Linked DNA regions of Homo sapiens: regions 1 and 3 are each linked to region 2. The links come from fine-mapping of genetic effects on gene expression. A gene starts in region 2. Each other region holds a variant in brackets. All regions are shown on one strand. Distances are between the middles of the regions.

Region 1 (10,436 bases), 27 kb before region 2:
GGGAGCTTTGACCCTTTTCTATCTATCTCAATTTGCCTTATTGCATTCAGCTTTCTTCACAGAGCAGTATGACAAGTTTTACTAGAAATTATAATTTCCTTTAGACGAAGACTATTTGCAGTGATTCCAAATTAGTTACCCTACAACAACAACAACAACAACAACAAAAAAAACAAATATCCAATAAAATATACTTCATGAGAAAAAAATTAAAAATGACCTTAGGAGCCAGAGGCTTTCAAACTAAAAGTAATTTCACATTTTTATGAACAATGATCTAGTAATTTTAGATAGTTTAGCTAATCAATAGAAATAGCATTATTTGTTTGACCTGATGCAAAAAGTAAGGCATTTTTTAAAAAGATCCTTTTTAAAATACAAATAATGCCTAATTCCTTTCCTATAGAAATTACACAAGTACGTGACTAAAATCAAATTTGGTATGATGTATTACATGTTAATAACTGCAAAACCTAGCAATTTAAGGAATAAATCTTATCTAAACAGTGTGTATACTATTCATTATATAACAGATTTAACGCATACCAATGAATGTAAAGTTATATACACGTAAACATAAGAACATTGCTACAAAGCAGAAACTTTCATTACCAGTATTAATACACTGTCAATTACCAAGCCAAATACCATTTAATCTTCACAGCCTTATAATAACAGCATTATCATTAAAGTAATTGTTCAGATGAGAAAACTGAGGCTTCACAAAGTTACACAATTTGCTCATCACTGTATAGCCAAGACAATTTCAATATACAATCAGAATTGTCTTTCAACTGAAAGAAATAAAACCAACATTAAGACAATTTCTTGATATTTAAGAACTTTAACAGAGATGATACAGTGTGCTTTAACTCAGCAATCAGTTAAACTTTATCTTTTTTCTTTCTTTTTTTTTTTTTTTTGAGACAGAGTCTCACTGTGTTGCCCAGGCTGGAGTGCAGTGGCGAGATCTGGGCTCACTGCAACCTCTGACTCTCGGGTTCAAGCGATTCTCCAGCCTCAGCCTCCAGAGTAGCTGGGACTACAGGCGCCTACCACCACACCTGGCTAATTTTTGTATTTTTTATAAAGACAGGGTTTCACCATGTTGGCCAGACTGGTCTCGAACTCCTGACCTCAGATGACCCACCCGCCTCGACCTCCCAAAGTGCTGAGATTACAGGCGTAAGCCACTGCGCCCAGCCTAAACTTTTTCTGTAAAGGGCCAAATAGTATATATTTTAGGCATTGTGGGCCATGCAGTCCCTGTCATAACTACTCGAATTCACCATTTTAATAGAAAAGTGGCCACAGACAATATGTAAATGAATTAGCATGGCTGTGTTCCAAAAAAACACTTTATTTATAGATGCTGAAATGCAAATTACATATAATGTTCATGTATCACAAAATACTATTTTTTTAACCATTTAAAAATGTAAAAACCGGCCGGGCATGGAGGTTCACACCTATAATCCCAGCACTTTGGGAGGCCAAGGCGGGTGGATCACCTGAGGTCAGGAGTTCGAGACCAGCCTGGACAACATAGTGAAACCCCGTCTCTACTAAAAGTACAAAAAATCAGCCGGGTGTGGTGGTGGGTGCCTGTAATCCCAGCTACTCCAGAGGCTGAGGCAGGAGAATCACTTGAACCCAGAGGCAGAGGTTGTAGTGAGCCGAGATCGTGCCACTGCACTCTAGCCTGGGCAACGAGAGTGAAATTCCGTCTCAAAAAAAAAAGTAAAAACCATTCTGAGCTCACAGGCCACACAAAAACAGGAGGTGGTCATAGTTTGCTGATTCCAATTTTAACTGAAAAGTTAAACATTAATAAACATTTTTAATTACATAAATATAACATATTATACTTAAACACAAATAATACTTTGTCAAGTATTGAGTTTCAAGTAATTCTGTCATACATTATTTCTGTAACTTATGCATACTGATATTCAGAATTACAGTACCTTTTTTCTGGTATCACTTTTAACTTGCTCATCTTGAGTTACTTCATTTCATAATTGCAGATAATCTAAAAGAAAAATGTTAATGATATTAAAAACTTATAACTCTTTTTTCTATATATTAGATATCACAGAAGCCATACAATGGAAAGTTTTCATTATGGGCAACACAAGATAACACCGGAAACAAAAAGAGAACATTTGAGTTCTATGTGCTTCTACTGGGTCGCTTCAGAATGCAATGTATGACTATAAAAATACCTATAATCAGCCAGGAAACTTATCAAAATCCGGAGCTACAAAAACGCAGAAACCTAACATAATGTCATTTGCAACCTAATGTTAAGATCTTTTGAGACAGTTCAAATTATGCTTTCTGTTCTAATACTCCTCCTTAAAATACATAAACCAATCACAGCATCCTGTGATTAGTGCACTTACTGTACACCATTCACACAGTAGTCAAATACTAGTCAATATGTGTTATTTCCATATAAGAACATTTTCAAATTAGTAAAAGCTTCTATGCACATCTTCCCTCAAACAATAGTTTTCATTTTTAGACATTATATATGTTTAAACAACCTTAAATCTCGATTCACACAATTTTTATAAATCTTCAAGTTTATTTTGCAACTATTAACCCTAAAATACTCTAAATATCTTTTAAATACCAATGCTTACTGTAGCAGAATTTTTTGGCATCACCAAAAAGTAGAATAACTACTGTGAATTCAAAAAGTTAATCATGGCTGGGCATGGTGGCTCATGCCTGTTATCCCAGCACTTTGGGGGGCCAAGGCAGGTGGATCACCTGAGGACAGGAGTTTGACACCAGCCTGGCCAACATGGTGAAACCCCATCTCTACTAAAAATACAAAAATTAGCTGGGTGTGGTGGCAGGTGCCTGTAATCCCAGCTACTCAGGAGGCTGAGACAGGAGAATCACTTGAACCCGGGAGGTGGAGGTTGCAGTGAGCCAAGATCGTACCATTGTACTCCAGCCTAGGCGACAAGAGCGAAACTCCATCTCAAAAAAACAAACAAACAAACAAACAAAAAACCAGTTAATCACATACTTATGAAATATTTAGTAATGTCATATTTAAAGAGACAACAAACACACAAAAAGGGCAAACTTCAAATTGTTTAACTTAATACATTTGGAAGATACTCTGATGAAGTAGAAGATATTCTGGATGTTTGTCTTCAATAACAGAACTTTTCAACACGACATACATAATTTTTTTTCATTTTCCTTAACTAAGAAAAGGAAATATTTAGAATTGTGTACAAAAATTACATGAATTGTTTTTAAAGTCAATGAGAAATTTTAAATTGTAATTTTTTTTACTCTTTTTTAAGACACAACTACAAAATCAAAGTAACTTTTTTCTATTTCTAAATTAAGTAAAAATCACTATATATCCACAGGGAGAAAAAAATCTTACGTGATTTCAAAAGCACTGTTGCTGCCACAAACAGAAGAAACTATTAATACACTAACAGCACATCTCATGAAAAGTTCCCTGTGGATTTTACTAGAGTTGATAGAGTTGAAAAGAATAATGGTGAGCACTAATATCATAGCCAACTGTATTTCAACAGATAAGAAATGATTTGAACTTGCAGTTCACAGTAAAATAAACCACAGGCATTTCTCTCCTCTTACTCTTGGGACTAGATTACAGTAAAAGTAAAGAAATAAAGTTGGTTCCTCTCAAGTCCTCTGGCGTTACCAAAGTGAACAGATCCAGGAGCTGAAGAGGGTCCATAGGTGGGAAGTGAAGTCAGTGCCTCAGTTGCCAGTGTGTGTTTTGTGCCTTATCCTTTAATCACGCAAAAAAGGAGAATACTGCAGTGAATGAAGTGCATTTTAGCACTGCTTTTTCTACTGTAATTGGTGTTTGAATGAGGATAACAATGGAAGAGATGAAGAATGAAGCTGAGGCCATTTCCACGTTTTATATGCCCTTCTATGCAGTCATGTATCCTGTGTGTAATGAGCTAGAAGGAGTAAATCTGCCTGCAGCTCTAGAATGAGTAAATCTGTCTGCAGCTAGACACCAAGACCATTTTCATTATGGTTGAAAAAGACAATTGTAAAATGTAGCTTCATCATAATCTCACACTGAAGATTTTTTGCATCATTTTTGCTATTATCATTCTAAGAATTACAAATCAAAAGAATCTACACCTTAATGTGTCATTATATAGCATTCCTTAAAATAATTATAGATATTGGTATTGTTTCTGGCATTTTAACTTGAAAGTGATATGCTGCAAGATAACATATTTAAGAATATTTGATGGCAAAAATTCAATATATGGTATATATCTGTTAAACATCTCTTGAAAAAATGAATATATATGTGTGTATATATGATCAGAATATCAAGACAACGTGGTGTAATGCCTAAAAAACTTCTAACAGGAGCTTATAATAGCAGCTTATCAAAAATAAAGGGCCGGGCACAGTAGCTCACACCTGTAATCCCAGCACTTCGGGAGGCCAAGGCGGGCGGATGACCCGAGGTTGGGAGTTCAGGACCAGCCTAGTAAACATGGTGAAACTCCATCTCTATCAAAAATACAAAAATTAGCCTGGCCTGGTGGTGCAAGCCTGTAATCCCAGCTACTCAGGAGGCTGAGGCAGGAGAATCACTTGAACTGGGAGGCGGAGGTTGCTGTGAGCTGAGATCGCACCACTGCACTCCAGCCCGGGTGACAGAGCGAGACTCTGTCTCAAAAAAAAAAAGAAAAAAAGAAATAAAGCAAACAAGAATTCTGAAGAAGGGAGGGAGGAAAGAAGGAAGGTTGGTTATGTTTAAACCTAGTGACAAAAAGGAAAACTAAGAGGGAAGAAGGAACAGGTATTATGCTAAGAAGAACTCAGGAAACTAGGAACCTAGCACTCAGAAACAAGGACGACAGAGGAAGACTACAAAACAGGGCTAACTAAAACTTTGGAACTGCAAATAGTAACTTCTTACCTCCTCCATATCTCCATGCCCTACCACTGTGGAACATGCTCAGCAGTATCAAGCATCTAACCCCTGGCAAATAATCTTCACTAAAGGAACAGACAACCTCAAAGAATTCTGCTTTCTAGGCTTAAGAGTCCCCCAGGAAAAAGGTCAGTTCTCAACCCTGTTATCCTAAAGTAGGCCAGTGTATCCCTTACAGTTCACTTTTTATTACTGAAGCCTGAAGCCAGAACATAATGAAAAATCTTGC[G/A]AAAGCTTGTGTTGATTACAATATGGTGTAACAGAAAGTGCAGGCACCTAGAAGCAGAAGTGTTGCATTTCACCAAGTTTGTGGCTTTGCCAAGCAAGTGTGATAAAGCAAGAGGGCAGAGGAACTGAGAATGTATGAAAAAAAGTGATAAAAACTGAGCTCGAAATTTAGGTATAATCTCCTCTTTCCTCTTTACTGAATCATTTTCATCACCATAAAATCATGATATTTCTGTGTCTTAGGAAAAAAACTTTCTCGCTCCCAATTCAGCTACTGTCCCATTTCTCTCCTTCTGAAAGCAAAGACTTGTTTATGCACACTGTCAACAAGTCCTCCCTTCCAATCCTCTCTTAAACACATTCCAATGAGACTTTCCCCACCCCACTCCACCAACACCATTCTTATCAACAACTAATGATCCCCATGTTACTAAATCCAATTGTCAATTCTCAGTCCTCATCTTATTTGTCCTATCAGCAGCATTTGATACAGCTGACCACATCCTCTTCTTGGAAATGCTTTCTTCATTTGGCTATATACTTTGCTTTCTCCCAACCTCACTGACCACTTCTAAGTTTCCTTTAACGGAATGCCCAGGGCTTAGTCCTTTCTTGTCCTCTTCTAACTACAGTCTCTTCCTTGGTGATCTCATCTAGTCTTGTAATTACTCAACATTTCCACTTGAATCTCTAATAATATTACCAACTCGACATATGCAAAACGGATCTGACCTTCCCTTCCAAGTGTGCTCTACTCTGGCTTTCCCATCTAAGTTAAAGACAATTCTATGCCTCCAGTTGCTCAATTCAAAACCTTAGCTTCATCCTTGTCTCCTGTCCCACATCCAATACATCAGAAAGTCTTGATAATTCTACTTTTAAAATATATCCAGAATCTGATCACTTTACCACATCTACCACGGTCAAGTAAACAATGTCACTAGTCTCCCTTCTACCTCTGATGCCCCCTACAGTCTATTCTCAACACAACATGCTTAGTGATCCTTTTAATACACTGGGGGACAGAAGAAGGAAAAAACACCTTAAGTAGATTTTTGTCACTACTCTGCTCAAAGCCCTGTGCGGCTGCCAATTTCAATGACATAAAAGACCCTAGAGGAATACCCCCAGTCCTTACCTCCCTGTCTTCATATCCTACCTACAACTTTTCTCAGTCACTCTGCTCTGGATGCACTGGCTGGGCCTCCATGTTTTCCTCCAACATGCCAGGCTCTCACTTTAGTGCCTTTGCATAAGCTGTTTCTTTTGCCTGGAATGTGCTTCTGCCAGATATCCCAATAACTAACTCCACCACTTCCATTGCTCAAGTATCACCTTTTCAATACAACCCATCCCAACCAACCTATTTAATATTGCAAACTACCTCCAGACCCTAGCATACCCATTGCCCTTGCCGGAATCTACTTTGTCTTCTTCCAAAGCACTTACTGCCTTCTAAAACATGATGATTCAAAAATAACTGAACAGGCTGGGTGCAGTGACTCACGCCTGCAATCCCAACACTTTGGGAGGCCCAGGTGGGAGGACTGCTTGAGCCCAGGAGTTCAAGACCAGCCTGGGCAATATAGCAAGAGCCCTTCTCTAAAAAATAAAAAAATTAACTAGGTATGGTGGCATACACCCGTAGTCCCAGCTACTCAGGAAACTGAGGTGTGACAACCACTTGAGCACGGGAGGTTAATGCTGCAGTGAGCTGTGTTCACACCACTGCGCTTCAGCCTGGGTGACAGAGCAAGACGCTGTCTCAAAAAATAAATAAAATAAAAATAACTGAACATTTTTGCTATGGTCTGAATGTTCGTGTGCCTCCCAAAATCCTTATGTTGAAAAGCTAACCCCCAAGTGACAATATGAGAAGTTAGGGCCTTTTGGAGATAATTAGGTCATAAGGGTGGAGGCTTCATGAATGGGATGAGTATCCTTTTTTTTTTTTTTTTAATATACTTTAAGTTCTAGGGTACATGTGCACAACGTGCAGGTTTGTTCCATAGGTATACATTGCCATGTTGGTTTGCCACACCCATCAACTCGTCATTTACATTAGGTATTTCTCCTAATGCTATCCCTCCCACAGCCCCCCACCCCCTAACAGGCCGTGGAGTGTGATGTTCCCCGCCCTGTGTCCATGTGTTCTCATTGTTCAACTCCCACTTATGAATGAGAACATGCAGTGTTTGGTTTTCTGTCCTTGTGATAGTTTGCTGAGAATGATGGTTTCCAGCTTCATCCACGTCCCTGCAAAGGACATGAACTCATCATTTTTTATGGCTGCATAGTATTCCATGGTGTACCTGTGCCACATTTTCTTAATCCAGTCTATCACTGATAGACATATGGGTTGGTTCCAAGTCTTTGCTATTGTGAATGGTGCCATAATAAACATACGTATGCATGTGTCTTTATAGCAGCATGATTTATACTCTGAGTATATACCCAGTAATGGGATCACTGGGTTCTAGTTCTAGTTCTAGATCCTTGAGGAATTGCCACACTGTCTTCCACAATGGTTGAACTAATTTACACTCCCACCAACAGTGTAAGTGTTCCTATTTCTCCACATCCTCTCCAGTATCTGTTGTTTCCTGACTTTTTAATGATCGCTATTCTAACTGGTATGAGATGGTATCTCATTGTGGTTTTGATTTGCATTTCTCTGATGACCAGTGATAACGAGCATTTTTTCATGTGTCTGTTGACTGGATAAATGTCTTCTTTTGAGAAGTATATGTTCATATCCTTTGCCCACTTTTTGATGGGGTTGTTTGGTTTTTTCTGGTAAATATGTTTAAGTTCTTTGTAGATTCTGAATATTAGCCCTTTGTCAGATAGGTAGATTGCAAAAATTTTCTCCCATTCTGTAGGTTGCCTGTTCACTCTGATTACAGTTTCTTTTGCTGTGCAGATGCTCTTTAGTTTAATTAGATCCCATTTGTCAATTTTGGCTTTTGTTGCCATTGCTTTTGGTGTTTTAGTCATGAAATGTTTGCCCATGCCTATGTCCTCAATGGTATTGACTAGGTTTTCTTCTAGGTTTTTATGGTTTTAGGTCTTACACTTAAGTCTTTAAACCATCGTGAGTTAATTTTTGTATAAGGGGTAAGGAAGGGATCCAGTTTCAGCTTTCTACATATGGCTCGCCAGTTTTCCCAACACCATTTATTAAATAGGGAATCCTTTCCCCATTGCTTGTTTTTGTCAGGTTTGTCAAAGATCAGATGGTTGCAGATGTATGGTGTTATATCTGAGGCCTCTGTTCTGTTCCATTGGTCTATATCCCTGTTTTGGTACCAGTACCATGCTGTTTTAGTTACTGTAGCCTTGCAGTATAGTTTGAAGTCAGGTAGTGTGATGCCTCCAGCTTTGTTCTTTTGGCTTAGGATTGTCTTGGCTATGCGGGCTTTTTGGTTCCATATGAACTTTAGAGTAGTTTTTTCCAATTCTGTGAAGAAAGTCATCGGTAGCTTGATGGGGATGGCACTGAATCTATAAATTACCTTGGGCAGTATGGCCATTTTCACAATATTGATTCTTCCTATCCATAAGCATGGAATGTTCTTCCATTTGTTTTTGTCCTCTTTTATGTTGTTGAGCAGTGGTTTGTAGTTCTCCTTGAAGAGGTCCTTCACAACCCTTGTATGTTGGATTCCTAGGTATTTTATTCTCTTTGAAGCAATTGTGAATGGGAGGTCACTCATGATTTGGCTCTGTCTGTAATTGGTGTATAGGAATGCTTGTGATTTTTGCACACTGATTTTGTATCCTGAGACTTTGCTGAAGTTGCTTATCAGCTTAAAGAGATTAGGGGCTCAGACAATGGGGTTTTCTAAATATACAATCATGTCATCTGCAAACAGGGGCAATTTGACTTCCTCTTTTCCTAACTGAATACCCACTATTTCTTTCTCTTGCCTGATTGCCCTGGCCAGAACTTTCAACACTATGTTGAATAGGAGTGGTGAGAGAGGGCATCCTTGTCTTGTGCCAGTTTTCAAAGGGAATGCTTCCAGTTTTTGCCCATCCAGTATGATATTGGCTGTGGGTCTGTCATAAATAGCTCTTATTATTTTGAGATACATTCCATCAATACCTAGTTTATTGACAGTTTGTAACATGAAAGGCTGTTGAATTTTGTCAAAGGCCTTTTCTACATCTATTGAGATAATCATGTGGTTTTTGTCATTGGTTCTGTTTATGTGATGGATTATGTTTATTGATTTGCGTATGTTGAACCAGCCTTGCATCCCAGGGATGAAGCCAACTTGATTGTGGTGGATAAGCTTTTTCTTGTGCTGCTGGATTCAGTTTGCCAGTATTTTATTGAGGATTTTTGCATCGATGTTCATCAGGGATATTGGTCTAAAATTCTCTTTTATTGTTGTGTCTCTGCCAGCCTTTAGTATCAGGATGACGCTGGCCTCATAAAATGAGTTAGGGAGGATTCCCTCTTTTTCTATTGATTGGAACAGTTTCAGAAGGAATGGTACCAGCTCCTCTTTGTACCTCTGGTAGAATTTGGCTGTGAATCCGTCTGGTCCCGGATTTTTTTTAGTTGGTAGGCCATTAATTGTTGCCTCAATTTCAGAACCTGTTATTGGTCTATTCAGAGATTCAACTTCTTCCTGGTTTAGTCTTGGGAGGGTGTATGTGTCCAGGAATTTATCCATTTCTTCTAGATTTTCTAGTTTATTTGCATAGAACTATTTATAGTATTCTCTGATGGTAGCTTGTATTTCTGTGGTATCAGTGGTGATATCCCCTTTATCATTTGTTATTGCATCTATTTGATTCTTCTCTCATTTCTTCCTTATTAGTCTTGCTAGTGGTCTATTTTGTTGATTTTTTTCAAAAAACCAGCTCCTGGATTCATTGATTTTTTTAAGGGATTTTTTGTGTCTCTCTCTCTCTCCTTCAGTTCTGCTCTAATCTTAGTTATTTCTTGCCTTCTGCTAGCTTTTCAATTTGTTTGCTGTTGCTTCTCTAGTCCTTTTAATTGTGATGTTAGGGCGTCGATTTTAGATCTTTCCTGCTTTCTCTTGTGGGCATTTAGTGTTGTAAATTTTTCTCTACACACTGCTTTAAATGTGTCCCAGAGATTCTGGTACGTTGTGTCTTTGTTCTCATTGGTTTCAAAGAACGTCTTTATCTCTCTGCCTTCATTCCGTTATGTACCCAGTAGTCATTCAGGAGCAGGTTGTTCAGTTTCCATGTAGTTGTG
Region 2 (10,436 bases):
TCACATTTGTTGCCAATGATAAAATTTGAGCTTTCAAGCAAAAATCCGAATTCTGGAAAACTCATATCCACCATTGTCATGTCAAGACCTAAACAGCTTCCCAATAATTTGTCTCTAACAAAATGGGTGGTGATATTAACAACCATAACTTTCTTTAATATTGCATGATGAAAGATGTCAACATTTGGAAGATCTGCATAACACTGAACCAATATTTACAAATGACCAAGGAATGATGTTACAATCTCAGGAATGAGTATAAGACCCATTCAAAGTTCCAACCAATGGGTTTTACTAGAGCATGCAAAAATCCACTTACTGGATTTCTCACGGCATCTAACCTTTAAGAAATTGCCACTTACTGAGTTTTAATATAATACCAAACAAGAATGTCCACAATTATCGGAAAAGGCTATTAAAATGCTCCCTCCCCGGCCTCCCCACCCTGTTTAGCCATTAACTATGTGAGACTGGATTTTCTCCATATGTATTTCAACCCAAACAACATATTGCAATAGACTGGATGCAGGAGCAGATATGATAATCCAGCTGTTTCCATTAAACCAGACAGATTTACAAAAAAAGTAAAACAATGCCACTTTTCTCACTACCTTATTTTTTGTTTTAAAAAAAAGTTGTTTTCATTAAAAATAGGGTGTTTATATTAACATGTAAAGAGTTTATAATTGTCATTTTAAGTGAACTGACAATTTATATTTCCCTTTTCATTTACAATACAGTAAACATAGATAAATTCACAAAAGCTTTTTGGGGATCCTCAACAACTTTTAACAATGTAAAAGGGTCCTAACCAAAAGTTTGAAAGCATTTAGAGTTTTAATATTAGATCCCTGCAAACCAAGAACAAGTATGTAAAATCATACTGGAGGGAAAAAAAAAGTTCCTAGGAAAATTATATGAAAGCTGAAAATGAACACAATGTCAAATCAAAACTGATTTCACACTATATAATATCAATAAAAAAGAAAATGCTTAGATAAAAAAGAATGCTTAAAAAAATTGATTTTGTGTGCCCTGGAAACAACATACAATATTCTGATCAAATAAACAAGTACATACCTACCAATATTTTGACAGATCACATTTTTGATAGCGGCACATTATAGTCAAAGAAACACCCAATCACAAACTCAAAAACAGATGATTAAAAGATTAAAATAGCAGCCATCACCAACAGGAGGGAGACAATCCAAGGTTCTGTCAGAAGGGACAAACGGATTTATCAACAGCTCTCCAGTAGCATCCCAGGGCACCCAGCTCAGGGTCTAGCTGTTCTATTTAAAACTGACTTACATGTTTCCAAGGCAGGAGGCAGGACAGTGAGACTAAGCTCTCATTTAACCCCAAAGGAGCAAATGGGTCATAGTGGAATTAATCTGCACTAATACTGCTCCATCCCCCAAAAGTCCTTTTTCTGCTTACTAGATCCCTTTGAAGACTGAGGAAGAGCAACGGTAATAATAGCAATATTTACTGGGCACTTACTACATGCCAGGCACTGTGGGCTAAGCACTTTACTTGTATTAATCACTTAATATTTGAGAATATCTTAAGAGTATACACTAATATTATGTCATTTTTGGAGCTGAGAAAATTAAAGTACAAAAAGGACAAATAACTTGTCTTAAAAAAATAAAAATAAAAATAACTTGCCTAAAGCAAAGCCAGGACCCAAACCGAGCCATCTGGCTCTGAGGCCCAACTCCTTAGCCACTACACCATAGTACACAGGCACAGTAATCAACAATAACATCTGAAGTTTAAAATTCAGTGCCCACCCTACAAAATTTATGTTGTTTATACTGAAACCCATTGCCTAAGGAAAGCTCCCATCTTGCAGATGGCCCTCTGACAGGTGCATCCATTGCTATTCACGCACTGTTCAACTTTCAGATAGTGGGGGACTTCAAGCAAGAAAAGCAGATTTGGGAAGATGAATACTTTGGATGAGGTTTAAAAAAATTCAGGCCAGGACGGGCGTGGTGGCGGACGCCTGTAATCCCAGGACTTTGGGAGGCCGAGGTGGGCAGACCACCTGAGGTCAGGAGTTCAAGACGAGCTTGGGTAACATGGTGAAACCCCGTCTCTACTAAAAACAAAAACTTAGCCGGGCGTGGTGGTGTGCTCCTGTAATCCCAGCTATTCGGGAGGCTGAGGCAGGAGAATCGCTTGAACCCGGGAGGCAGAGGCTGTAGTGAGCCAAGATCGTGCCACTGCACTCCAGCCTGGGCGACAAGAGCGAAACTCCGTCTCAAAAAAAAAAAAAAAAAAATTCAGGCCAAGCTTGGTGGCTCACGCCTGTAATCCCTGCACCTTAAGAAGCTGAGGCTAGTGGATCACCTGAGGTTGGGAGTTCGATACCAGCCTGGCCAACATGGTGAAACCCGTCTCTACTAAAAACACAAAAATTAGCTAGGCGTGGTGACGCGCGCCTATAATCAAGAAGCTGAGGCGGGAGAATCGCTTGAACCCGGTAGGGGCAGGTTGCAGTGAGCCGAGATCGCACCACTGGCACTCTAGCCTGGGCGAGAGAGTGAGACTCCGTCTCAAAAAAAAAAAAAAAGTAAAATACAAATTACAAAATTTCATAACTGTTGGACCTCTTTTCCTTCTGCTAATGGAAGTAAAACCATTATTATATAGCAGCCTAGCCAGACTTTTCTAAAGAGAAGAATGCCTCAATTCGGAAAAGCTTTATAAAAATTGCTTCTACAAAAGTTTAATTAATAGATTTAAATGCTTTGCAATGTTGGCCAAATACGAGGGTAGTTTTAAGCCTATCCACTTCATTTCCGAGTTCAGAGTGAGTCTGCAGTTGTAATTATGTGATTAATCAATTCAAGGCAGAGTTTTGTGATCATTAAAAATGAACCTGTAACTTCACCATAGAATTTAACTTAAGAGAAGTGGAATGGGAAAAAGAGCAAGTCATATTAGAACTCTGCCTGCATGATGAGAAACAGTGGGTAAGGCACGACTTATTATTTCGCAGTAATTCTACATAGGAAATACAGATCTTTCAGAGTTTTGTTTGGTTTTGACATTTGGCACATGTTTTAAAATAAGCACCATTTAAAGTTCCTTAAATAAATCATTTCTTTTTTGGCCTACTGAACTAAAAACATTCCACAATACAATTACAAAAATAACTTTCCGGTTTTCTCAGACAACCAGTTTATAAGAATAATTCAGAAGTTCACAAAGGATAATTTGATTTACATAAAGCTTAAAAAACGGACATAAAAGGTAAGTGAAAATGACCGATTAAGAAGACTGTTAAGGTCCTTTCTAACTACAAATTGTCATGCATTGTAATTAAACACAACTACAATGTTAAACACCTGAAGGAAAAAACCCACATAGAATTAATACTGCCAAAGAAAATTTCCGCTATCTTCAGGCACTTGAGTAAGCTATGTTAAAACGGGAAATGGGCTTTAAATTATCAACATTCACATCGATTACACTATGATGCATGAAAACTCCATTCTACAATGAGTAAACGCCCAAGAAAGGAACCCAACCAACTCCAATTGCCCTGGTGCTCGTAAGAGGTTTATACCGCACAAGGGGTAAAACAACGGTAGAGTCGAGCAAGCCTTTGGGTTACAACAGTCCTTGAACACTTGCAATTGAGAACCCGCAATTCAGGAAGGAAGACACTAAGGAAACTCTGCACTGTCATCCAGGGTGATCTGATTCAGGTTCAAACCAAACGCTCAAGGCGACAAGTTGTAAACAGAAGACACACTTCAGCTCAAACCACCCAGCGAGAGGAAGCAAACGTGCCCATCGCCGATGTCACAGCAAATCCCACCTTGCTGGCGCTCAGTCGGGAACGCTAGAATTCTCGAAGCACAGGGGCCCGCGATTCAGCGGCCCGCTACCACTGGGGCGGGGGAGAGCGGGGCTGGGCGCGCCCGCCCCCGGCCCTGCAGCCCCTCGGCTGGACTCCCCGCGGCGCCGCGAGCTCGGGCCCGAGAGAAAGGGCTGAGCAGAAAGGGCGGCCTCCGCCCAGAGACCGCGCCCGATACCCTCCGCAAGGTCTGGGACGGGGATCCACCGAGGGTCCGGGGACTGGGGAAGGCGTTTTCCAGACCCAGTCAAAGCCCCACCCCGTCAGGGCTTTCCCTCAAGACCGAGTGCGTTCCCCTCACGCGTCACATGTGTAACATGCGTTACACAACCCGTCAGGTAAGGGGCGCAGGGATCCGGGGTCGCCCCTCCTACCCCCGGGCGCCGTCGCTCGCATCTCCCGCGGCCCGGGGAGAGCAGAGGGACGGCCGGCCGGGACATGAGGACTGCAGCAGGGCGCTCACCGGCTCAGGATGGGGCGCTGGCGGGGACCGCGCAGAGCCGCAGCACCCGGCTCAGCACCTGGATCACGGCGGATCCCTCGCCGCCCGCCGCCCGGTGTTTTCATACAAACCCCGGTGGCAGGCGAGGCGGAGGCGGCGGCGGCGGCAGCTGCGGCGGCGGCGCTGGAGGCGGCGGAACCTGTCCGCATCCCGGGCAACGTCAGCGCGGCGCCCCGCCCACCGCACGCCTTGCCAGCCGGCTCCCAGCACGCGCAGGGAGTGGGGGCGGGGCGTGCGAGGCCGCGAAAGGGGCGGGGCGGAGCGCACGCCCTCTTCCCGCCGCGTCCCTTGTTACCTCCGTGCGCGCTGCGCCCCGCCTCTCTGCGCGCCTGACGGGAGGGAGCGCGCGCGTGGGGGCGGAGCGCGCACGGGAGCGGGAATTAGGGGCGGGTGTTCCGCGCGCTGCCGGTCCCTTGTACCCAGCAGCCCCGGCCACCGCCCCTCCGTACCGAACTGCGAGCGACTCCCCACGTTCTTCAAGTCATCTTTCTGTACACTCCCAACGAGGGCCCCAGCCTTTTCCCGGAACTAAGCCCGCGCCCACCCCCTCCCCCGCCATCAATCAGTCACTTTCTTAGGAAGGGTTCTTAAAGCTCCCCACGTGATCCCGGGGTCGCATCAAACGCTGGGGACTGCGGTAAAGCTTAGACCTTTCCTGACCTCAAGGAGGGTCCATAATAAGAGGCTGGAAGGGACATGCTGTTACTACAATCGGGCTCCCAGAAAACAACAGGATTGCACCTTGTGGCCAAATCTCAGTAAATTAGATGCCTAGTGCTGCAGCGAACAAAATAGCATGCTGATTTACTGTTTTTTGAAAAAGTGCCTGCATATAATCAAAACGGTAATGCTAAGTTGGCTACTGAAGGCAAAGGCGGAATGTTTTATCTGAGCCAAAGTAATGTGTCAGAGAAATTACTAATACACCCCCTTCTGTTTTGACTGTACTTCAGTGTACTGCAATGTATTGCAAATAAATACTGACATCATTTACTTTTTCACGTTGCACAAGAACATGTTTGCTACTGTTTATGGTAAGGAATGTAATATCACAACTAGATAAGGGAATGCATTGAGAACTGTGAGATTTTTGTTTTGTTTTATGATCTTGTTCAAATAAAATTAAGCAGGTGTGAAAGCAATTCAAAAAGTAACCCAAGGTACACCACAGTGCTTCTTACAGTTTGCCCTTGGTAGATGTCTTTATTCAGATGAACAAGAAACTGCCATTTTATAAACATCGTAGTTTCCCTCATCGTGAGCACTAAAAGATAGGTTACGGTATTTAAAATAATTTTGAAACAACCACCACCCCAAACCACCCAATCAGAAACGTATTATCTGAAAATACCCAATAATAATGTAATAATTTTACAATAATGCTAAATATGTATGTAATATACCTGAAACTTTTCTTAAAGAACATGTTTCTAAATGAGTCAACCTGCAATATAGGAAGATATTATGTGGATGTGTGTGTTTGTGGAATTTGAATCCCACTTTCACAAGCACTGTTAGCATAGTTTGATGACCACAACACAGACCCAGGAGATTAACCCACACAAGATAAATAGCAGCATTACATAGCTTTGAAATGATTCCAATCACATAGTTTGCCACAAGAGTGAGTGATTTATGTTTTGCGGTAATTAAGAACTTAGAGCTACTCCCCCACCCCCTGGGAATGTGACATCACTCTTCATCAGATCCCACGTGTATGAAGTTGAAATAAACTTCACCTCTCCTAGCTAATGTGACGTTACACCTTATCAAACACCATATATATGTTACTGACCTCAACTACAGGATTTCGAAATACATATAAACTCAAGAATTTGCAAGATACTTTGAGAGCTCAGCGGGTGGCAGATCGCGTGCTCTGTCAGCCACTTCCCTGAACGCTACCAGCTCAGGCTGCAACAGGGCCACACCCTGTTAGCCTTTAAGCTTTGAAGCCTGTCCACCAACACTGGCACAGCCCTCTAGCATCGTGGGACCTTGCATATCCTCACCGATCTCCTGTATGTTGGACACCATCTCTCCCGAGAACCTCAGCCTCCAAAAGGTAAAGGTACACCTCAGTTGTTTTTCTTTTTCTTTTTCTTTTTCTTTCTTTTTTTTTTTTTTTTGAGACAAGACTCTCACTCTGTTGCCAAGGCTGTAATACAGTAGTGCAATCATGGCTCACTGCAGCCTTGACCTCCCAGGCTTAATGAATCGTACTACCTCAGCCTCCCACTGAGTATCTGGGACTACAGGCACACGTCACCACACCTGGCTAATTTTTTTAATTGTTTTTGTAGAGTCGGGGTCTCCCTAAGTCACCCAGGCTGGTCTCAAACTCCTGGGCTCAGCAGTCCTCCTGCCTTAGCCTCCCAAAATGCTGAGATTACAGGCATTAATACCACACCCACCTCAATCCTTAATCAGACTTTACTTTCCACAGAGGTCTGCTTCAATCTTAATTGAACAACTAGGTTTTAATAGTTTTGGAACTCACTCACTATGTAGTTAATAAACATCATCTATGGAGTGTATTCCCTGTGAAATTATTCTCTTAATTCTCTGCCTCTATACATTGTGAACCTAAGAAAATAAATTATCTTCACATGGCAATAAACCATGTTGATCCAGGATTGTTTCCTCCTTAGCTCAGCTAGATCCAGGTTCTTGTCTCAAGACCAGGAAAAATCAGGTACACGGACACTTGAAGAGTGAGTGAAGTAGAATTTGTTAAGCAAAAGGAAAGCTCTCAGCAAAGAGAAGGATCCTGAAAGCAGGTTCCCAGTTGCCCGCTTCACAGTTGAATGCAGGGGCTTTTACATGCAAGCTGATGGGGCCAGGTTCCCTATTTGTGTAAGGCGCAAATTCCTGGTGGCTCCACCCCATTCCCCCAGTGTGCACGCGGGCCCTTAGTCCACTGTAGGCATGTTTAGGCAAGACCCCTGTGTAAGTTCCCTTATCTGTACGAAACATGGGTGGGAGCTTCTCTGGGGACCCTTTGCTTACTATCTGCCTAAAGCAAGCTGGCTGACGCCTTTCAATGTGATTCATGAAATCATACTTTTATCTCTCTACTTTGAACCATACAAAACACAGAGCTAATTTCTATTGGTCACTCTTTCCACAGCTTCTTCAATAAACCTTATTATGATATATAAAACTAAATGTGAATGGCTGATATAGATCAGAGTTGGACTATATAATGGAATTCATTTAACTTGGATTCCTCTATTCAGTCCAGCCTTGTAGGTACTCAGTAAATGTTTTCCTGTTTCATTTTTGGACTAGTCATGGGGAGAGAGAGGTGAACATTGGAGCCCAGCTATCTCTTTCTCCTCTTCTGCGGATCACCTTATCTCCATGCTTTTAATAAGGTAACGTACAAAATGCAACACACTGTATTACAAAACTCTATAGTCATAAGGCTTAGAACAGCCATGGACCTCTCAAAAAGTCTACAGCAATTTCCATCTAGAACATAAATGTTAGGAGAGCATGATTGATCATGAGGTTTCTGAAACATAGCTGGTCCTCTGGAGTTAGAGGATTGATTGTTATAACTATTCAACAATCAACCATTTATTGAGCACCTCTTATGTACCAGACAGTCCTCTTGAGATCTTCTGAGGAATTAAGCAAATGATAATGCTCAACAAAATACCTAACCACTGCCTTGTGTCAAACTAAAAGGTTTACCACAAATAGACCACAGAACAGAATGTAGTACAAACGACCAGAGCTGAATCTAAATGAATGCGGCAAAACTGGGAAATGGAGGGAAGCAATCTGGGATTTCACACATTGAATGGTTCTGATGCAAAATCTTTTACAGTGGCAAATGGTTTCCATGGTAAACTGTGAATGATATATAATTCGGGGTCAGAAAAATTGAACTTAAAGGCCAGGTGTGGTGGCTCATGCCTGTAATCCCAGCATTTTGGGAGGCCAAAGCAGGAGGATCAATTGGTGATATAGGAGTTAAGAAGAAATCACTTAGGCAGACAGTGAGAGTATGGCAGCCTTTGGTAAGGCTTTTCTCTTTAATGAAAAGCAGCCCCAAATCATTTTCTAACAAAGAGCAGCCTGTAAGCTCGAGCTCCAGACATAGACAAGCAATCTGGGAGCTTGCACTGGTGAATGCCAGCAGAAACTCGGGGCTAGACATGTTCAGGATGGCAGCTCCACTTCCCTTCTCTTTGTCAGCCACGTTTACAGTAAGAAGCAGACAACATGGTGCAGATCAACAGGAAAGCCCATTTGCAGAATAAGATTAGGGTGGGGCGACCAGCCTTCCTTTTCCCCCTGCCCCCACACAGTATATAGACGTCATACCTGATGGAACCAATCTGTGAGCCCCATATAAATCAGACACCGCCTTCTCCAACCTGCTGCCTATAAAATCTGCTGCGATCCACTGCCTCACCCCCTCTGTGGACATCTCTCTTTCCCAAAAAGCTGCCTCTCTCCTTTCTTCTAACTATCAACTTTCCACTACTTAACCCACCCACATGTGTCTGTGTCCTAAATTCTTTCTTGGCACACAAAACAAACCACAGGGTATATACCCCAGACAGCATAGGCATATCATTGGAGCCAGGAGTTCAAGACCAGCCTGGACAACATAGTGAGACCCCCCACATCTCTACAAAAATTAAAATTAAAATTACCTGAGCGTGGTGGTGCATGCCTGTAGTCCTAGCTACTTGGGAGGCTGAGGCAGGAGGATAGCTTGAGCCCAGGAGTTCAAGGCTACAGTAAACCGTAATCACACCACTGCACACCAGACTGGGCAACAGAGCAAGATTCTGCCTCTAACAAAAAGAAAGAGTGGGGGGAGAGAGAGAGAGAAGCAAAATTGAGTAGAGACTTAGTGTACAGCATGATGACTATTGTATACTGGAAATTTGCTAAGAGAGTGGATTTCAGGTACTCTTACCACAAAAAAAAAACCAAAATGCTAACTATGTGAAGAGATAAATATGTTAGCTTGACTATAGTAATCATTTCACTATGTATATCAAAACATCATGTTGTATACCTTACATATGTACAATTTTGTTTTTTTTGAGACAGGGTCTCACTCTGGAAGTGCGGTGGCATGATCATAGCCCACTGCAGCCTCCAATTCCTGGGCTCAAGTGATCCCCCTGCCTTAGCCTCCTAAGCAGCTGGGACGACAGACGCATACCACCACACCTGGCTAATTTTTTTTTTCTACTTTTTATAGACAGTGTCTTGCTATATTTCCCAGGCTGATCTTGAACTCCTGGCTTCAAGTGATCCTCTGGTCTTGGCCTCCCAAAGTATTGGGATTACAGGCCTGAGCCACCATGCTTGGCCCCAATTTTTATTTTTAAAAAATCAACTGGCCACAGATATATGGTTACTAAACTCTCAGTTCTATTCCATAGGTCTATATGTCTATCCTCATGCTAGTATCACACTATTTTGATTATTGTAGGATTATATTAAGTCTTGAAATCAGGAAGTAAGTTCTCCCACCTTGCTCTTCTTTTTCAAGATGATTTTGGCTATTCAGGGCCCCTATAATTTTCCATGTGAATTTGAGGATGGGCTTTTCCATTTCTGCAAAAAAGGCCATTGGAATTTTGATAAGGATTGTTGAATCTCTAGATTGCTCTGAGTAGTATTGACATCTTGACAATATTAAATTTCCTTATCCACGAGCATGGGAAGTCTTTCCATTTGTTTAGGTCTTCATTAATTTCTTTCAGCAATGTCATAATTTTTAGTGTACCAGTAGTATTTTACCTCTTTACTTAAACTTGTTCCTAGATATTCTTTTAGATGCTATTATAAATGGAATTGCTTTTTAAATTTCCTTGACACTATAAGACAACCCAGTGAAGAGTATGAGTTTAATTGCAGCTATGGAAAAGTATTCTATACTCACCTAGGATGGAGTATAGAAGTTAAGAGGGCAAAAATCAGAGCCATGAGGAACTCCCATATTTAAAAGAACTGGTAATAATAATAATGATATTCATAATAATGGTAATAATAATTATAGCAATAGTTAACATTTATTGAGAT
Region 3 (10,436 bases), 21 kb after region 2:
TAAAGTTGAGGAAATATTCTGAAAAGTAAGTAAAAATACAAGTTAATAGAAAGTAGGAGCGAAACATTTTTAATTGGCAGATAAATTCAGAAAGCCCAAGATCCAAGTAATGGGAATTCCAGAAAGATACAACAGAGAAAACAGAAAAGAGGAGATTATCAAAGACATCATATAAACAATTTTCTCAACACCAGTAATGTGAGACTCTAGGCCTCTCACGTGCAGAGACACACATAGGCTCAAAATAAAGGGATGGAGGAAGATATACCAAGCAAATGGAAAACAAAAAAAGGCAGGGGTTGCAATCCTAGTCTCTGATAAAACAGACTTTAAACTAACAAAGATCAAAAGAGATAAAGAAGGCCATTACATAATGGTAAAGGGATCAATTCAACAAGAAGAGCTAACTATCCTAAATGTATATGCACCCAATACAGGGGCACTCAGATTCATAAAGCAAGTCCTTAGAGACCTACAAAGAGACTTAGACTCCCACACAATAATAATGGGAGACTTTAACACCCCACTGTCAATATTAGACAGATCCATGAGACAGAAATTTAACAAGGATATCCAGAAATTGAACTCAGCTCTGCACCAAGCAGACCTAATAGACATCTACAGAACTTTCCACCCCACATCAACACAATATACATTCTTCTCAGCACCACATCACACTTATTCCAAAATTGACCACATAGTTGGAAGTAAAGCACTCCTCAGCAAATGTAAAAGAACAGAAATTATAACAAACTGTCTCTCAGACCACAGTGCAATCAAACTAGAACTCAGGATTAAGAAACTCACTCAAAACCGCTCAACTACATGGAAACTGAACAACCTGCTCCTGAATGACTACTGGGTACATAACGAAATGAAGGCAGAAATAAAGATGTTCTTTGAAACCAACGAGAACAAAGACACAACATACCAGAATCTCTGGGACACATTTAAAGCAGTGTGTAGAGGGAAATTTACAGCACTAAATGCCCACAAGAGAAAGCAGGAAAGATCTAAAATTAACAGCCTAACATCACAATTAAAAGAACTAGAGAAGCAAGAGCAAACACATTCAAAAGCTAGCAGAAGGCAAGAAATAACTAAGATCAGAGCAGAACTGAAGGAGATAGAGACACAGAAAACCCTTCAAAAAATCAGTGAATCAAGGAGCTGGTTTTTTGAGATCAACAAAACTGACAGACCGCTGGCAAGACTAATAAAGAAGAAAAGAGAGAAGAATCAAATAGATGCAATAAAAAATGATAAAGGGGATATCACCACCGATCCCACAGAAATACAAACTACCATCAGAGAATACTATAAACACCTCTACGCAAATAAACTAGAAAATCTAGAAGAAATGGATAAATTCCTGGACACGTACACCCTCCCAAGACTAAACCAGGAGGAAGTTGAATCTCTGAATAGACCAATGACAGGCTCTGAAATTGAGGCAATAATTAGTAGCTTACCAACCGAAAAAAGTCCAGGATCAGACGGATTCACAGCCGAATTCTACCAGAGGTACAAGGAGGAGCTGGTACCATTCCTTCTGAAACTATTCCAATCAATAGAAAAAGAGGGAATCCTCCCTAACTCATTTTATGAGGCCAGCATCATCCTGATACCAAAGCCTGGCAGAGACACAACAAAAAAAGAGAATTTTAGACCAATATCCTTGATGAACATCGATGCAAAAATCCTCAATAAAATATTGGCAAACCAAATCCAGCAGCACATCAAAAAGCTTATCCACCATGATCATGTGGGCTTCATCCCTGGGATGCAAGGCTGGTTCAACATACGCAAATCAATAAATGTAATCAAGCATATAAACAGAACCAAAGACAAAAACCACATGATTGTCTCAATAGATGCAGAAAAGGCCTTTGACAAAATTCAACAGCCCTTCATGCTAAAAACTCTCAATAAATTAGGTATTGAGGGGACATATCTCAAAATAATAAGAGCTATTTATGACAAACCCACAGCCAATATCGTACTGAATGGGCAAAAACTGGAAGCATTCCCTTTGAAAACTGGCACAAGACAGGGATGCCCTCTCTCACCACTCCTATTCAACATAGTGTTGAAAGTTCTGGCCAGGGCAATCAGGCAGGAGAAAGAAATAAAGGGTATTCAGTTAGGAAAAGAGGAAGTCAAATTGTCTGTTTGCAGATGACATGATTGTATATCTAGAAAACCCCATCGTCTCAGCCCAAAATCTCCTTAAGCTGATAAGCAACTTCAGCAAAGTCTCAGGATACAAAATCAGTGTGCAAAAATCACAAGCATTCTTATACACCAATAACAGACAAACAGAGAGCCAAATCATGAGTGAACTCCCATTCACAATTGCTTCAAAGAGAATAAAATACCATACCTAGGAATCCAACTTAGAAGGGATGTGAAGGACCTCTTCAAGGAGAACTACAGACCACTGCTCAGCAACATAAAAGAGGACAAAAACAAATGGAAGAACATTCCATACTCATGGGTAGGAAGAATCAATATTGTGAAAATGGCCATACTGCCCAAGGTAATTTATAGATTCAATGCCATCCCCATCAAGCTACCAATGACTTTCTTCACAGAATTGGAAAAAACTACTTTAAAGTTCATGTGGAACCAAGAAAGAGCCCACATTGCCAAGACAATCCTAAGCCAAAAGAACAAAGCTGGAGGCATCACGCTACCTGACTTCAAACTATACTACAAGGCTACAGTAACCAAAACAGCATGGTACTGGTACCAAAACAGAGATATAGACCAATGGAACAGAGCAGAGCCCTCAGAAATAATACCACACATCTACAACTCTCTGATCTTTGACAAACCTGACAAAAACGAGAAATGGGGAAAGGATTCTCTATTTAACAAATGGTGCTGGGAAAACTGGCTAGCCATATGTAGAAAGCTGAAACTGGATCCCTTCCTTACATCTTATACAAAAATTAATTCCAGCTGGATTAAAGACTTAAATGTTAGACCTAAAACCATAAAAACCCTAGAAGAAAACCTAGGCAATACCATTCAGAACATAGGCATGGGCAAGGACTTCATGTCTAAAACACCAAAAGCAATGGCAACAAAAGCCAAAATTGACAAATGGGATCTAATTAAACTAAAGAGCTTCTGCACAGCAAAAGAAACTACCGTCAGAGTGAGCAGGCAAACTACAAAATGGGAGAAAATTTTTGCAATCTACTCATCTGACAAAGGGCTAATATCCAGAATCTACAATGAACTCAAACAAATTTACAAGAAAAAAACAACCCCATCAACAAGTGGGTGAAGGATATGAACAGAAGCTTCTCAAAAGAAGACATTTATGCAGCCAACAGACACATGAAAAAATGCTCATCATCACTGGTCGTCAGAGAAATGCAAATCAAAACCACAATGAGATACCATCTCACACCAGTTAGAATGGCGATCATTAAAAAGTCAGGAAACAACAGGTGCTGGAGAGGATGTGGAGAAATAGGAACACTTTTACACTGTTGGTGGGACTGTAAACTAGTTCAACCATTGTGGAAGACAGTGTGGCGATTCCTCAAGGATCTAGAACTAGAAATACCATTTGACCCAGCCATCCCATTACTGGGTATATACCCAAAGGATTATAAATCATGCTGCTATAAAGACACATGCACACATATGTTTATTGCGGCACTATTCACAATAGCAAAGACTTGGAACCAACCCAAATGTCCAACAATGATAGACTGGATTAAGAAAATGTGGTACATATACACCATGGAATACTATGCAGGCATAAAAAATGATGAGTTCATGTCCTTTGTAGGGACATGGATGAAGCTGGAAACCATCATTCTCAGCAAAGTATTGCAAGGACAAAAATCCAAACACTGCATGTTCTCACTCATAGGTGCGAATTGAACAATGCGAACACTTGGACACAGGAAGGGGAACATCACACACTGGGGCCTGTTGTGGGGTGTGGGGAGGGGGCAGCGATAGCATTAGGAGATATACCTAATGTAAATGACGAGTTAATGGGTGCAGCACACCAACATGGCACATGTATACATATGTAACAAACCTGCACATTGTGCACATGTACCCTAGAACTTAAAGTTATATATATATATATAAAACTTTATATATATAAAACTTTATATATATGTAAAACTTTATATATATATAAACTTTATAAAGTTTATGTATATAAAGTTTATACATATATATAGAAAGAAATAGCCCATCAAGGGCCCAGCAAAATGAGTACCCAAAACATATCACTGTGAAGGTTTGGATACACTGACTGAGGAAAAAAGAAGGTCCTGAAAGCATCTAGACAAAAAAGACTACTTGTAAGTTGCAAGAATCAGAATGGCATTGGACTTCTCAGCTTTCCTCATTAGAAGTTTAAGATCTGAAGCAATCTTTAAACTCATGAGGAAAATTAAGTCTAATAAATAATTTTCTTCTTAGCCAAACTCTCAATCAAATGTGAAGCTAGAATAAGCATTTTCAGGCAAAAAAACAAAAAACAAACAAAAAAAAACCCTCACATCAAGCCTGTCCAGAGAAACTACTAGAGAATGTGCCCCACAAAAATAAGGGCACCAACTATGAAAAAGGAAGACTCAGGATTCTGAAAATGTGCTCCAACATGGAAATTCTCAGGAAATACCAAAGGGAAGACCCAGGACAACTGGTCCAGTGTGGAGCAGGAGGATGGATGCTCCAGGCAAAATGTTTCCAGAAAAGAATAGATTGAAAAGATTTCCTGATAAGTTTGATCAAATGAAAAAGTGTTGAGGAATTTTATAGTTCTGTTGGAGAAGAATTAGTATAAGGTGCAAAAAAAAGTTGTATCAAAACAGAAGCATGATCATTTCATACTAGATAGTTCACCTATGAATAACAAAGTTATAATAATGAAAATGAATATTGATTTAACTAAAAACTATAATGTAACTTATATTGGGAGAATGGAGGAGGATGGGAAGTAGAGTAGGTATAAGAGTGCTAAATCCTTATCTCCCATAATACACAGTCAGTAGACAATGTCTAAAATTGATAATGCCATTTAGAAACATGGACATAAACACCAGAAGAACCAACTGAAAAGGTTGAAGGTGGCCGTCTGGGAGTAGGATTCAATTAAAAGCTTGGGGGAGGGGAATGCTTTTTTAAAATTATAAACCTTATGATAGTATGTGTCTCTATAATAAACCTCATGGTAGTATATACAAATAATTACTGTGAAAAGTATTTTACAAATTACCTGAAATTTGACCATAGTGAACATCTCCATAAATCTGGCCATATTTTCTGATCAGAATGAAATACGAGTAAAAACAAATTATATGTTTAAGCCAACCAATCGTATGTTTAAACACACCACATCTCAACCCCTAGTAAATTGTAACATAATTCTACAATGTAGAATGTAAGCCAAGAAAGAAAAGTTCAATTTAGAAAATAAGAAAAAAGAAAAATACTGCCTCTGAAAACCTAGTCAAGGCAATTCTTGGCAGTAAACTCAGAGTTTAAATAGACTTTTTTTTTTTAAAAAGGCATTCAACTTAAGATTTTAGAAAATGAACACCCCGGTCGGGTGGGTGTCTCACGTCTGTAATCTCAGAACTTTGGGGGGCTGAGGCGGGTGGATCACCTGAGGTCAGGAGTTCGAGACCAGCCTGGCCAACATGATAAAACCCCATCTCTAGTAAAAATACAAAAAATTAGCTGCACATGGTGATGAGCGCCTGTAATCCCAGCAACCAGGGAGGCTGAAGCAGGAGAATCGCTTGAACCTGGGAAGCGAAGGTTGCAGTGAGCTGAGGTTGCACCATTGCACTC[T/C]AGCCTGGGGAACAAGAGCAAAACTCCATGTCAAAAACAAAAAAAGAAAATGAATACCCCCTCCCTCAAAAAAATCCATGGGAGAAAACAATAATGTAAAAACTAAAAATATATTCATTTAGCAATTTTCTCTATGTTTTTCCTAATTTTTATGCAGTCTAGATTTCTAGTAACTGTTTTCGGGGTGTCTGGTGGGTTGTATCTTTTAGGCCTTAAACACAGATAGTTTGAAAGTATCAACTCGCCTGAACTTAATGGAACAAGACTTCTCTGAAAAGAATGTGCAGCTCCAGACCAGTACAGCTGAGGAGAAAACAAAGATTTCAGAGCAAGTTGAAGTCCTCCAGAAAGAAAAGGATCAGCTCCAGAAACGAAGACACATTTTTAAGATGAAAAACTTAAAAATGGTAGAGTGTTATCACCTGAAGTAAGTCAGTATTCTTTGGAACTGGAGGTGCTGTATGATGGATCACTTGAGTGATTTCCTCAGTCTTTTTCACATAATCATAAATATTATCTGGTAAACTTGGTTCCTTGAGATTTTGTCAGATGTAGTGAGTTCACCTGGCACTTATTTGGCACCATAAACCACGCTTGACTAGAGACTGAGATATCCTTACATAGTGGTCCATGGACATGGCCTCTTCCTGGCACTGCCAGGCATTTGGAAACTATTAATTTCCTTGAGTATATTTGCCTTCTCAGCTGGGGTTTCTCGTCTGAAATCACAGAACATAGAAAATGATTTGAGGGACTCTACTGGAGGGCACCTGACTTTTCTCTATATATATTTCTTGAAGGATACTAGGTAATTTATTACATACAAGAGATGCCTAAGGAATTAGGGGTTAATTCTTTCCATGAAACCTTGGTTTAAAAGGCCCAATGTCCATACTATGTCCAGCCAAATAGATGCACAAAATTCCAATCCCAGTAAAAGACCTTTTAGTTATAGTTACAGTTTTTTTAAAACTATAGTTTTAGTTACAGTTTTTTTAAAACTATAGTTTTAGTTATAGTTTTTTAAAACTATGTAGAAGATGATTCATTTATGGGCTGTCAAATTGCCCCAGACTTTGTCTTTTTTCAAAATTTTCAGTCAGTTGGCAGTGGTACCTTTACCTTACTTCATCAGAGAAAGATGAATTTTTGAATCTGAACTTCCTCTGCAAATATTTATTGTTGGTGTCTCATCATTACCAAACCAAGGGAAAATTGCTAAGAGAAGGTGAATAGCTGAGAATCATACACAGTGGTGAATCTTGTAGTGTTTTAGTTTGGAGCAAGTGACAGGAAGTTATGAGGGCTAGTTAAGAAATAGGAGCAAGGATAACATTAGATTGTTGCTCATTGAGAATTGATGAAAGGATTGACTTACAAATCAATCCTTGATTGGGGGCTAAATGGCGGTTGAAAGGAACATTATAGCCCTCTGTTGCCGTTTTATAACTTAAGCTGGGTAGCTGTGCAGAGGAACAGAGAGCCAGGGTGTCCTCCCAAGGTGTTAAATTGGAGCCCAAGGGTTATAGATTTGAAGACATGAGAGCCTAAGATACAGCAGAATTCAAATATTTAAGGAATTCTGCCTGCCTGTGACTATTACTAAGCTCTATAGAAGATAGAAGAAGCCAAAAAAAAAAAAACCCAAAGTATTATGTTTCCCTTGAGAAATTAATACTCTATTTGGGAAAACAGATAGAAATATAAGAAAACTGTAAACTCTGAAGGACACTGAAAATCAAGTTGTGGATAACGTATTACAGCTATACCTCTTACATTATTTATTCAAAGCAATGAAGTGATCATTTGGGGGAAGATTCATCAAGGCAGCCTCAGTAGATCAGAATCTTGAGCTAGATTATGAAAAACATGATATGCACTGGCAGATACAAGAAAGAAGTCCGTTTTAGACAGAACATCTTTGAATAAGGCACAGAGATGAGAATTAACAAATTATGTTTGCAGTAGGGTAGAGTTCCATTAATATCAAGAAACATTTAGGTTTCTATTTCATGTGGGATCCCATAACAAAAAACGTTATTTACAGATTTGTGGTGAAAATATAGTATGGTGCATGATACCTATTTTGCGGCTATTCTGGACTGGGGTTTGAGGGAATGATGAGCCTCCTACAACTGGTAGAGTTCTACTTACTCACATGAGCTTCTATGCACCTTTCTTCCACATGGTTGGTTCTTCTTAGTGTACCTCTCAAGTGAGGCTCTGCTCTTATCACGATTTTAAAGCCAAGGTTAATATTCCAAATAGATCTGTCACTAGCAGATGATCGAGAACATGAGATTCTGATGTGACACAAGGTATCAATAAAATCTAGTTGGAATGGTTTGCTATCTTAATGTCTTTAAACTTGTTTAGGATAATTTTCTCTTTCCACAGTAAATTAAAATATTTTTCCTAATTTTATTACTTTAAGGAAATGGATAGAAAGATTTTAGATCGTTACACTAATAGAAGATTACCTAACAATTTACTACAGACAGGTCACACCGCTTTTTTTTTTTTTTTTGGTAAAATCCAGAAACTAAAATTAAAGAATACCTGAACTTTAGATTTCTAATAATACAGAGTAGTTGCTTAATAGGTAGGGAGGAAAATATAAGAACTATTATGTTTCTCTAATCTTTTAAACTTTTAATTTCTCATTTTATGATGAGAACATACTTTTTTTTTTTTTTTTTTTTTTGAGATGGAGTCTCAGTCTGTCACTCAGGCTGGAGTGCAGTGGTGCGATCTCGGCTCACTGCCTCCGTCTCCTGGGTTCAAGCAATTCTCCTGCCTCAGCCTCCTGAGTAGCTGGGATTACAGATGTGCACTACCATGCCCAGCTAATTTTTTTTTTTTTTTTTTGAGACTGAGTCTTGCTCTGTCACCAGGCTGGAGTGCAGTGGCGCGATCTCAGCTCACTACAACCTCCGCCTGCCTGGTTCAAGCGATTTCCCTGCCTCAGCCACTCGAGTAGCTGGCACTGCAGGCACACGCCATCATGCTTGGCTAGTTTTTTGTATTTTAGTAGAGATGGGGTTTCACCATGTTGGCCAAGATGGTCTCGATCTCCTGACCTCGTGATCCACCCACCTCGGCCTCCCAAAGTGCTGGGATTACAGGCGTAAGCCACCGCGCCCAGCCTAATTTTTGTATTTTTAGTAGAGACGAGGTCTCGCCATGTTGGTCAGGCTGGTCTCGAACTCCTGACCTCAAGTGATCCACCCACCTCAGCCTCCCAAAGTGCTGGGTTTACAGGCCTTGAGCCACCGCACCCTGCTGAGAACATATAATTTATAGGGAAATCTCTGCAGTGCTTGCTCAAAAGTTGTTGTTAGTTTTTTGTTTCATTTTACTTGGTCTCTGGACCAGCAGCAACAGCATCACTTGGAGGCTTGTTAGAAATGCAGATCCTCAGGCCCCAAGTGGACCTGCTGGATCAGAATCTGAATTCTAGTGAGCTCCTGGGTACACATTAAAGTTGAAAAGCAGTGCTCTATCATAAAGCAGAGTCAACTCTTGATAACCTGTGGTTTGTATTGTGGCAAATTTTTCATCCCAGGATAGTTACCCATTGCCACGTATCTTGTCAACCTACACCTATTGCTGAGTTAGAGGGAACTGCAAACACTGATATGCTGCAGCCTCACTGGAGCGGGCTGTCCTTGGGTTTCTATATTCACACTACCTTATATTATCTCAGTACTTCCTTAACTTAGATCTAAAACCATAGAAACTGAATTTATACGAAATTGTCCTCAGCCACGTATAAAGGCAAACTCTTCACATTTGTTTTTGATAAAATATAGTCACAGTATAAATTCAAAAGTCAAGTACAGTAAAGTCCTCACTGAACACTGTGGATAGGTTCTTGGAAATTGTGACTTTAAGAGACACCATGTACATCAGGTCCTCAAATTACATTGTTTTCCTTCAACATAGTTGCTTTTGTTACAAAGTTAATAAGAAAAAAAATTTGTTTCGTTATGTATTGTTTCTCTTAAAGTCACAGTTTCCAAGAACCTATTGATGATAAGGACTTACTCTATATTGGATAATTCACTTTTATTTGTGGCTCCTCTTATTCGTTCACCTAAGTACATTTTAGTATTTAAGGGGTTTTTTCTTGTAAAGGTGAATATTATTTTATTCCTTATGGAGCAATTATCAAACCATCAAATTCCATATGGTTAGTGATTGCACAGAGAAATAGAATGGCTGGTGAACATTTTTCTTTAGGTAGATCAGAAATATTCACATTATTGGCCAGGCATGGTGGCTCACACCTGTAATCCCATCACTTTGGGAGGCTGAGGCAGGGAGATCACCTGAAGTCAGGAGTTCCAAGACCAGCCTGGCCAATGTTGCAAAACCCCTTCTCAACTAAAAATACAAAAATTAGCTAGGCGTGGTGGCATGCACCTGTAATCCCAGTTACTTGGGAGGCTGAGGCAGGAGAATTGCTTAAACCCAAGAGGTGGAGGTTGCAGTGAGCTGAGATCCCACCACTGCACTCCAGCCTGGATGACAAAGTGAGTGAGGCCCTGTCAAAAAAAAAAAAAAAAAAGAAATATTCACATTATTTTCCTTTGGGATTT

The links. PIP is the estimated chance that this variant, and not a neighbour inherited with it, causes the effect.
Region 1: its variant is fine-mapped to the expression of AGTPBP1 in whole blood (TOPMed, PIP above 0.99). The same link has a PIP of 0.9 or more in blood mononuclear cells and monocytes.
Region 3: its variant is fine-mapped to the expression of AGTPBP1 in whole blood (INTERVAL, PIP above 0.99).

What each region holds. Positions count from the first base shown.
Region 1 is chr9:85,710,535-85,720,970 of GRCh38, forward strand. AGTPBP1 (ATP/GTP binding carboxypeptidase 1) reads right to left here. Exons shown (of 26, transcript NM_001330701.2): 2 at 1,968-2,032. The coding sequence starts at 1,999. Among named protein-coding and RNA genes, the nearest start is that of AGTPBP1, 26 kb to the right of the region's middle. The variant G/A (reference allele first, on the strand shown) is at 5,202.
Region 2 is chr9:85,737,435-85,747,870 of GRCh38, forward strand. AGTPBP1 (ATP/GTP binding carboxypeptidase 1) reads right to left here and starts at 4,520. Exons shown (of 26, transcript NM_001330701.2): 1 at 4,341-4,520. RefSeq lists an enhancer at 3,534-3,683 and silencers at 3,854-4,173, 4,244-4,843.
Region 3 is chr9:85,758,664-85,769,099 of GRCh38, forward strand. It overlaps a transcript of AGTPBP1 not described here and the pseudogene LOC100419824. Among named protein-coding and RNA genes, the nearest start is that of AGTPBP1, 22 kb to the left of the region's middle. The variant T/C (reference allele first, on the strand shown) is at 5,836.